2 linked regions of the Homo sapiens genome follow. The protein of the gene in region 1 purifies or fractionates together with the protein of each later gene. This does not show direct contact. Each region holds a gene or a part of one and is shown on either strand. Other genes may lie near its edges. The genes, in order: MSC and ACTR3B.

What was found.
Region 2: the proteins of MSC (region 1) and ACTR3B purify together in Homo sapiens (affinity purification with mass spectrometry; one large-scale study listed by BioGRID and IntAct). This does not show direct contact.

What each region holds. Positions count from the first base shown.
Region 1 is NC_000008.11:71,841,506-71,845,967, forward strand, and holds MSC (musculin), read right to left. Parts: upstream 2,908-4,462; 5' UTR 2,674-2,907; coding exon 2,140-2,673; exon of another isoform or gene 1,618-2,139; intron 1,243-1,617; coding exon 1,156-1,242; 3' UTR 55-1,155; downstream 1-54. UniProt on the Homo sapiens protein: Transcription repressor capable of inhibiting the transactivation capability of TCF3/E47. May play a role in regulating antigen-dependent B-cell differentiation.
Region 2 is NC_000007.14:152,758,030-152,762,600, forward strand, and holds the start of ACTR3B (actin-related protein 3B), read left to right. Parts: upstream 1-1,722; 5' UTR 1,723-1,853; coding exon 1,854-1,897; exon of another isoform or gene 1,898-2,023; intron 2,024-4,571. UniProt on the Homo sapiens protein: Plays a role in the organization of the actin cytoskeleton.

The sequences.
Region 1 (4,462 bases):
AAACCCTCTTAGTAAAGGGCAACAAAGACCACATCCTGACACCTCCAAGGGGCACACGGTTTTTACAGCGCGTTTTATTATTCATAAAAAAATAAATTTATTTACATATGTTATTTCCTGTGGTAGTGCAGCCTCGGGGCAAGGGCGCGTTCCCTATCGCAGGATCACTTGCTATGGTAAGCCGCCCACCCTGCGCGCTCCTCCGCGCGGGGAAGAACCTGCGCGGCAGGACGTGGTGTTGGAGTTGGGGCGCCCGGAGCGTGGAGTGGGGAGACCTGATGCAGAGAGTCTGGAGTCGGAGCTGGGGGTGCTGCAGGTAGGAGCAGGAGCGGGGCGGAGAGGGAGGCCCGAAGAAGACCCCACACAGGTTGGCGCAGCGGGGCTTGGGGAGGCTTCAGCCCAGAAGTGGAGAGGGTTGACAGACGCCTGCCTGATTAGAAAAAGCCGGGAGCTTGGGAAGGAGACGGGATTGAAGAAGCCACCCGGCAGGGAGGCCGAACGGCCCAGAGCTCTCCGGGTAAAACCCGCCTGCGGTGATCTGGGAAGTGTGTCTCCACCTAGCCCTGCGAGCAGCGGCCTTCCTCCCGCCCGTTAGAAGGGCGCTGTGCTGGAGTACGAACCCGGCCCAGAGAAGCCACTCGCCCTTCTTTGTCACTTAAAACCCTGTCCCGACGCGGATCTCACGTCTAGACCTCTGTCTTTAAAGCGGATGTAGAGCGCGTTCTAACCGTTCCCTAACCATTGTGTCACCGCGAAAGGCCGGGGCTGTGTGGAACCGTCCCGCACGTGTGCGATGAATCTGGCTCCGCTGAGAACGGATCCGTGGGCTGTCTGGCGCGGGCTGGGGCAGCAGCCGAGAGTTAGTCTACAGAGCTAGGGCCCGAGGGTGGACCTGCGTCCGCGTCTCGTCACGAAAGGAAGCTCTTTTTGGAGAGGCAAAACGTGGTCGCCCAGATCCGGCGCAGCTGTAGCCGTGGGCGCTGTGCAGTGACAGCCACACCCGCCACCTGTCACGATCACAGTTCCAGGGAAAGGGGAAGGGTCAAGGAGAATCCAGCGGAAACTTCTTCCCATCTCACGAGCTCTCCCTTCTCTCCGTGGCCCCCAAACACTCGCATTTAACGAATAATCCCATCAAGTGAGTTCCAGTCCGATTTAAGCGGTGGTTCCACATAGTCTGTTGGCTGCGGAAACTTCTTTGGTGTCAGAGTCCGGTCTTCCCGAGACCACGAATGGCCATGTCTGTAAATCAAAAAGAACGTGAGATATTAGAGAGAAACGATTGTCTCAAACCGAAACAGCTCTCCTACGCGAACCCCAGATATTCCTGACTTGGAGTAGCTAAGATTTTATCAGCATTCTGGGAATTTGCATGTCCTCTCTCTGAACTAAGATTTTCATTTTACTGGAGGTTGATAATCCGAGACTTGCCATATCCGTTCACGCTTCTTCCTGGACTTTGCCCGCAGGATAATTTGGTGAAACTCATCTGACTTTGAGGTTCTGTCGTTTAGTTCCCTTCCCCAACACACACACACACACACGCACACACACACACACACACACACACACACACAGTCATCCACTCCAAGCTCCAAGTAGGAACTGGGCTTGGACAGGATTTTTCCCAAGCCGGGAGAGCTGGCAGATCAGAGAGGGACTTTCCAGATAAATCCCATCTGGGGAAACGTTACTATCTTCCACAAGCAATTTTTCTAAAAATGCAAATGCTCTTTTATAGAGCTCGGCCTTCCCTCCTTTAAGAAAGGGCTTGCCGATTCAAACCTGCCCGACTCAGCTGGATTAAGTTGGGCAAGGGAGATTTGCCGTCAGTCTGCAACCTGGTGGCAGATGGAGATGGAACCAAGATTTACCCTGGAAGTAGGATATTAGTCAATGGCTGTCACTGGGGTACAATGTTCAGAACGATGCAAACAGACACGGAGGGTTGATTCTTCTTCAGGGAAATGGCTGGCCACTCCCTTGATTTGGGAGAAACTAAACTGGCCTTCTCGTTCCCAGTCCCAGAACCTCCACCCCTTTCGAATTCTTCCCAACGGGCTGACCCTGCCCGGCGCCCAGGAGCGCCCTGGGTATCTCCTGGCTGCTCTCCCGAATCCTTGCGCGCCGCGCCCCTACCAGGTTCACTGGGTGCACGTAGCCGTTCTCATAGCGGTCCTCCTGCAACAGCTGCCGCAGGTGAGCGATGTAACTGGAAGCCAGCCGGAGCGTGTCCAGCTTGGAGAGCTTAGTGTCGGGGGGCACCCAGGGCAGGCTGGTCTTGAGCCTGGAGAAGGCTTTGCTCAGCACGCGCATCCGGGCACGCTCACGGGCGTTGGCCGCGTTCCGCTGCGACTGCTTGCACTCTGCGGCTGAGCCCTTGGCCGGGAGGGGCTTCTTGCCACCACCGCCCGCGCTACCACCTGCGCCGCCGCCCCCAGCCACACGGGGCCGCTTCCTCTTGCAGCCTTCCGCGCTGCCGGCTGTGCCCAGAGCGCAGCGCTCCTCCTCGCCGTCGGGGTCCTCCTCCTCTGCCGACGAGTTGTCACTGGGCGAGGCGTAGCTGCGCTCTACGCCGCGGAGGGGCGGCCTCTTGGAGGCGGGGACCGGGTACTCCCGCTGCAGCCCCCGAAGCTCCATCTCCTCCGGATCACTCACCGAGCCCGTGGACATCCCGTTGTCCCCCTTGCCCACACGCGTCCTCTTTCCTCCCCCCTGGCCAGTCTCGCTGTCTCCGCCTTCCGCTCCCTGGCGGAGGCGGAGGCCAGAGAGCGCTCCAAGGAAGACTAAAAACCCAGGCCGGGAAGCGCGGGGTGAGAAAGCGAGGTGGGTGGCGAGAGCGTGAGCGCCCCTCTGCTGACCCCGGGGAGCGTGGACTACGAGTTGGCGCCCAAGTCCAGAATCCGCGCGCACCGCGGTAAGCTGCGCCTTTTGAAAAGGCTATCTGTACTCCTTGGAACAAACCACCCCGGGCAAAGAAGAGGGGGTTGTAAAGGGGGCCAAGAGGTGGGGCAGGGGCGTGGAAGGGGTGGGGACCGCTTTTCTGCATGCCGAAGAGCGGTTGGTGGAGGCGGGGGAAGGGGACGTCTCTGCAGAGCCGAGATTTGGGCTCTGAAGCCCGACGGCCCTTCAACATGTCTGCGCAGGATAAGTGAGCTTTCGGGGAGTGAAGGGGCACATCTTGTTCCTACCGACGGTGCTTCTACCCCCAGGTAATCTTAGCAGTGGCAAAGATTACCAGACACTTAGAAACGACGGGATTCCGACCTCTGCTTGCCTGCCAGTCTTTCCAGTAGAACTCAGTTTTCAAGTTAACCATTCATGATGTATGATTGTCTACCCAAGCCTTGCTGGACAAGAGAAAAAGCAGAACAGGCAAACAACATCCAACAATGCACAAGTTACCTCTCATTTTCCTCCTCCTTTTCTTATAATATACCTTCATGGTTTACAAAAATGGTTACAATGGTTCGTTGCCTTTTCAAATAACATCTGTAACTTAATGATATTATCTCCAATTTGCAGAACTTGAAGCTGAGCCGCCTAGATAGACGTTAAGTAAAAGACCCAAACTTATTAGGCTAAGTAGAAAAAAAGATTCAAAATCCGCGTTTTGAAATTCTGGCCCGTCGGTATTCTAGTCAGCTCCGTGCCTCCGGGTCACACATCACTGGATGTTGTAGCTGGTATTTTCCACTATCTTGAGAGTTCCATGCGTGATGTGATTTTGTTTTAATACCACAATGCGTGTGTTGGAGGATCCGGCCCTAAAGCTTTGCATTATAATGTAGGGAATCCTTGCTATTGTATTTAATAGATTGTGTATTGAAGAGCGAGCTCCTGGAAGCAGAATGCTAAGTTAGCACAATCGTCCATTCAAAGTAAAAACGACAAAGGAGCACCCTGAATGATCATGTTCCATTCCAAACAAGACTAAAACATCCTGCTCTTCCACACAAGAAAACACAACAATTTTGCAGTCTCATTATTTCCTAACTCGAAGGTCATCGCAGTTCCTGGTCAGGGGATAAGTACGTCTGTGGATACGGGCCCCAGTGGTCAGAGACTGAGTGCCCGCTGTGTGCCCGTCACTGTACTCGCGGCTTGTGAGCAGCTCACTGAGTAATAAAACCCGTATGAGTTTGGCATATGGTTACCCCATTTTACAATGATGAAACTGAGTCGTCACACAGGCTTAGGTGTTCACTTGTTCTTTTCCTGAAAGTCCACAGGCTCCCAAGCTGAGCAAGGTGCAAGGGGACCTATGTGGAGTCAGTCCAGGACAGAGCTGGCAGAGATAGCTGGGCCAGCCTGGCTCCCGCCAGTTCGTACAGCAGAACAAATGCGTCCAGCTCGATGGCTGAAGTGCTGCAACAGGTGGCTGGCAGAGGCTGACTTCATCACTCAGGCATCATTCCACCTTAGTCTCCCAGGCCACGCTACCCTTAGCAGGGGCGTTTTG
Region 2 (4,571 bases), on another chromosome or scaffold:
CTTTAACCCCAGCCTTGGGCTTCTAAACTGGGATTCCTCCACACTTACTCCTTTTTATTTTCCTCCCATTTGCTTCTCTCTTCAGTTCTCCTGAACATTCTCTAGGTCTGGGCCTTAATGGGTACTTATGAGTTAAAAAAAAGAAATGATGATGGGTTACCTAGGAGTGGTCAACGTATCTATTACTTCTAGGTAAAAAACACAATGTTTTAAGTACCTGTAAAAACAACATGTCTTGGCTGGGCGTGGTGGCTCATGCCTGTAATCCCAGTACTTTGGGAGGCTGAGGCAGGCAGATCACGAGGTCAGGAGCTCAAGACCAGTCTGGCCAGCATGATGAAACCCTGTCTCTACTAAAAATACAAAAAATTAACCGGGCATGGTAGTGGGTGCCTGTAATCCCAGCTACTTGGGAGGCTGAGGCAGGAGAATTGCTTGAACCTGGGAGGCGGAGTTGCAGTGAGCCGAGATTGCGCCACTGCACTCCAGCCTGGGCGACAGAGTGAGACTCATCTCAAAAAACAAAACAAAACAAAAAAATACATGTTTCCAGAAAGCTCCTAAAAAATTAGTATCAAGAATTTACGATCGGGCAAGAAGCAGGAAGCAAGTGGCAAGTGGGACTCTCAGTACCTTTATAATATAGTAGGTGGTGTTTGCCTTCTTTGGTTTCAGTAAGAACTTTTGGGCGATCATCCCATCTTCGACACTTGAAAACATTTTCCAGGAGTGATCTTGGTGTGGTTTACTCAGTCTAAGGCCATTCATTCCTTAAGGCTGGCCAAGCATTTGTTTTGCAGATTTTTCTTCTTAGAAAAATTTAGGCCGTGTTAGGTATAATAATTCCAACTAATTTTTTTTGTTGTTTTTTTGAGACAGACTCTCGCCCTGTTGTCCAGGCTGGAGTGCAATGGCGCGATCTTGGCTCACTGCAACCTCCGCCTCCCAGGTTCAAGCGATTCTCCTGCCTCAGCCTCCGGAGCAGCTGGGATTACAGGCACCCGCCACCACGCCCGGCTAATTTTTGTATTTTCAGTAGAGAAGGGGTTTCACCATGTTGGCCAGGCTGGTCTGGAACTCCTGACCTTGTGATCCACCCTCAGCCTCCCAAAGTGCTGGGATTACAGGCGTGAGCCACCGCGCCCGGCCAATTCCAACTAATTTTTTTTTTTTTTTTTATTATATGGGGAAGGTTACTCAGTCATTCAACAAACATTTGGGCACTTCCACAGGTACACCAAATACTGTGCTAAGCACCTGCTGCTCATCAATAGTGATTAAGACAGACTCAAGCCCTATCCTAGAAGATTTGATAGTCCAGTAGGGGAGGCAGACAACAAATACATAAATATAAAAATATAAACACTTTGCTTTAAGGGTTAGGAATGAAACCAACAGATTGTTGAGACAGAGGATACAGTACCGGTAGGGGACATAGTCAGGGTGATCAGGAACAACTTCCCTCGCAAGGTGACATTCGAGCGAAGACTTACAGGAGGAGAAAGGCGCCAGGCCTCGGAAATGGGGTCACGTTCATGTAAGTCAGTTAAAAATAAACCCCAATCTCTCCAGCAGCAAGGTTGGACGTATGGGGCCAAGAAGCCTCGCTGCCAGCACTAAAGATGGCGCGCCGGAGTGGGGGTGGGGGTGTTGGGGGAGGCGGGGCGTGCGCGCGTTCTGATTGGCCGACCGGGGAGTGACGTCACGTGTCGGCCGCCGAGCATCCGGGCTCCCGGCAGCGGCGCTGCGGCGGCTCGCGGGAGACGCTGCGCGCGGGGCTAGCGGGCGGCGGAGCGGACGGCGACGGGGCGCTCTCGGGCTGCCGGCGGGGCCGAGCGCCGCGCGTCCCGAGCATGGCAGGCTCCCTGCCTCCCTGCGTGGTGGACTGTGGCACCGGGTAAGAGCAGCTCGGCGCCCACCCCCGCTCCTCCGCGGCCCCGCTCCCGGCCCCTGGCGTCCACCTCGCCTGGAGGTCGAGCTGCGTCCGTCGCCCCGGGCTTGAGCCCCGCGATCACCTGGGCAGGTGGGGCGCCGGCCGCCGCTTCCCTCCAAGCCTTGCCTTGACGTCGTAAAACCCCCTCTTCCCTGCCGGGAAGGGCCACAAGAGGAAAAGCACGGAGGGTAGGGACGCGGTGCCCACTCTGAGCGAGCCCGGCGCTCCTCGCCTCCCCCGCCCACGTGGCCGGGCCCCTGGACCCGCAGCCCGGCTCCGGCCGTCGCCGGGGTGGACACCCTGAGGGACACCGGGAGCGCGGGATCTCCCCTCCTAGGAATATTCGCCAGCGTGAGGCACAGATCATCACTGCAGATCCTTTAACGTCACTCATCTCCTAGTGAACGGTGTCCCTGCCTTCCAGCGTTCTCAGCACTGGCCCTCGTTCTGTCCCCGCGTGTGCGTGTCATTCCTCCTGGCTGAGGATTCTTTACCACCTACTTGTGGAGAGAATAGCATCGATCTCCCAACTTGATACCATTTTTACTGCCCTCCCTGCGCTTTTCCAGTATGAAATGGCACACTCAGGCCAAGCTGTCCCTTTGGTTTGCATAGATTTGCCTTTTCGCTGAAAAATGATGTGTTTAAAAAGACTCCATTTTGAAAAATACCCTAAATTTGGGAGAGCATGTTTGTGGAATTGTGGTAGAGGTTTTTGTTTTTAACTTTTTGAGTGTGACCACTTCTTTCGTTGCCGTTAAGCTATTAAAAAGAGATCTTAGGAAATGCCCTGAAGTATCGGTGACCCAAGTTAGCTGGTTGTAGTAAGGTGATTGCTGAATCCATGTAGCTGGTAGTTTGGGAATACAAGCTTGCCTGCCTGCGTTATGGGTGTAGTGCTTAGTAAAATAGCCTGGAAGTAAATTTGGTCTCTTAGCGATTTTTTTCAAGAAGGGATTTTAATCATTTTTGCCACAAAATGTAACATGGCATGTTCACCTTACCCTTGATTCTTTTCTATAGAAAAATGCACTTGGTTTGGTTTCCTTGACAACCTTGTGGGGGTGCCTTCTTTAGTTTGCTACAGTCCATCTCCTACTGTTAGTTCCTTCCTTTTGCTGCTGAAGCGACCAGAAGTGGTTGTGGACTGGAAAAATCCTCTTTGCTTGTGTGAATTCTTTTTGAAATACACGTCATATCAAGCTTTGTAGCTCTTTATTTTAGAACTTGCTTTTCTACCTAAAACACAAGCCAAAATCAGCGTTGTCGATACTACAGCTCCCCTCCCTCAATTATTGACACCCTTAACTCATGCCCTCCCCCAATGGGTTCACCTCAGGTCCCCTCAGGTCTGGTTGTGTCAAGAGTGAAACCAGTGGGTGAAAGTATTTTTCATTTCCACATTTGCATGTGAGATTTTTGCTTTGTAGTTTTAGTCTTGCAGAACTATTAAAATATAAAGGAATTCTTGGTAGTAGCAATAAAATAATGCTCACAGAGTTGTCATACCTTTAAGATTAGTAAGTCGTGGACCTTACTCATCTTTCTTGCTATAAATACCTAAAATGTCGTGCTCAGTTTTGACCTTTTGAGGTAAGTGATTAATGTAACTTGGCTAACTTGGAGATTCAACTTCTATAGATCATTGTTTTGTGGCCCAAAGTCATGCTTCAGAAGTTGGTGTCAAGACTTAGAAACGGTGGCAGGGAATCTCCATATGAATTCCCCATATCGAGTGTATGGCCAGAAGGAGCCTGAAAGAGCCCGAATTTACCAACTTGAGCACATCAGTAGTTCTTACATTTCCCAGAGAGCCAAAATGATTTTTGGATTTAGTTTTGCCTCAAAATAGGACAAAAAGTGGTAAAATTCAGATAAAAATAACCAAGCCAAAGGAAAAGAACGGACCTAGGAAGTCACCCTGAGCTTTAGCCCAGTGGCTGCTGAAGTTGGTCCGCACATTCGACCTTAGTCTTCCTGTCTGACAACATCATAAGAGTCATGGTTATGTAATTCCTGTCATCAGAAATCAAGAGAAATACCTGTTTCTTGGGTGAAAAAAGCCTTTTTTTGTAGTACTAAATTGTAAAAGCATTGAGCTATACATAGTGGGCACTAATGATTTATTGGACAGTGTGATAAACAGTATTTTTTACAAATAAATTTCATCCCAGTATCCTTGAATCCTCCTCAGGTAAACCCCGAGACTACCTGAGTAAGCAGTGATGTGCTGGAGGCCAGGATAATATGGACAAAGGGATCTGCTGAGTCCAAAAATAAAGCTTCATCTATTTAAAGGGATGACTAGGCTGCATAGTTTTCAGAGAATATTTCACAACTCCGGTCTCACTTCTCTGAGCCAAACTTTTCAAATGAAGTCTTTTGCATTTTTCAACTTTTTTTGAAATAATTTCAAATCTACTGAAAGCTGGAAGAGAACAAAAAACTACTGTATACTCTTCTTCCAGTTTTACCAACTGTTAACATTTGCTTTGTCACTCTCTGTATGTCCATACATATTATTATTACTTTCCTGCACTGTTTGAGAGTAAGTTGCAGAGATCATACCCTTTTATATCAAAATACTTGAATGCGTACTTTCTGAGGACACATTTTCCCTTCTAGAATCACATTCCAA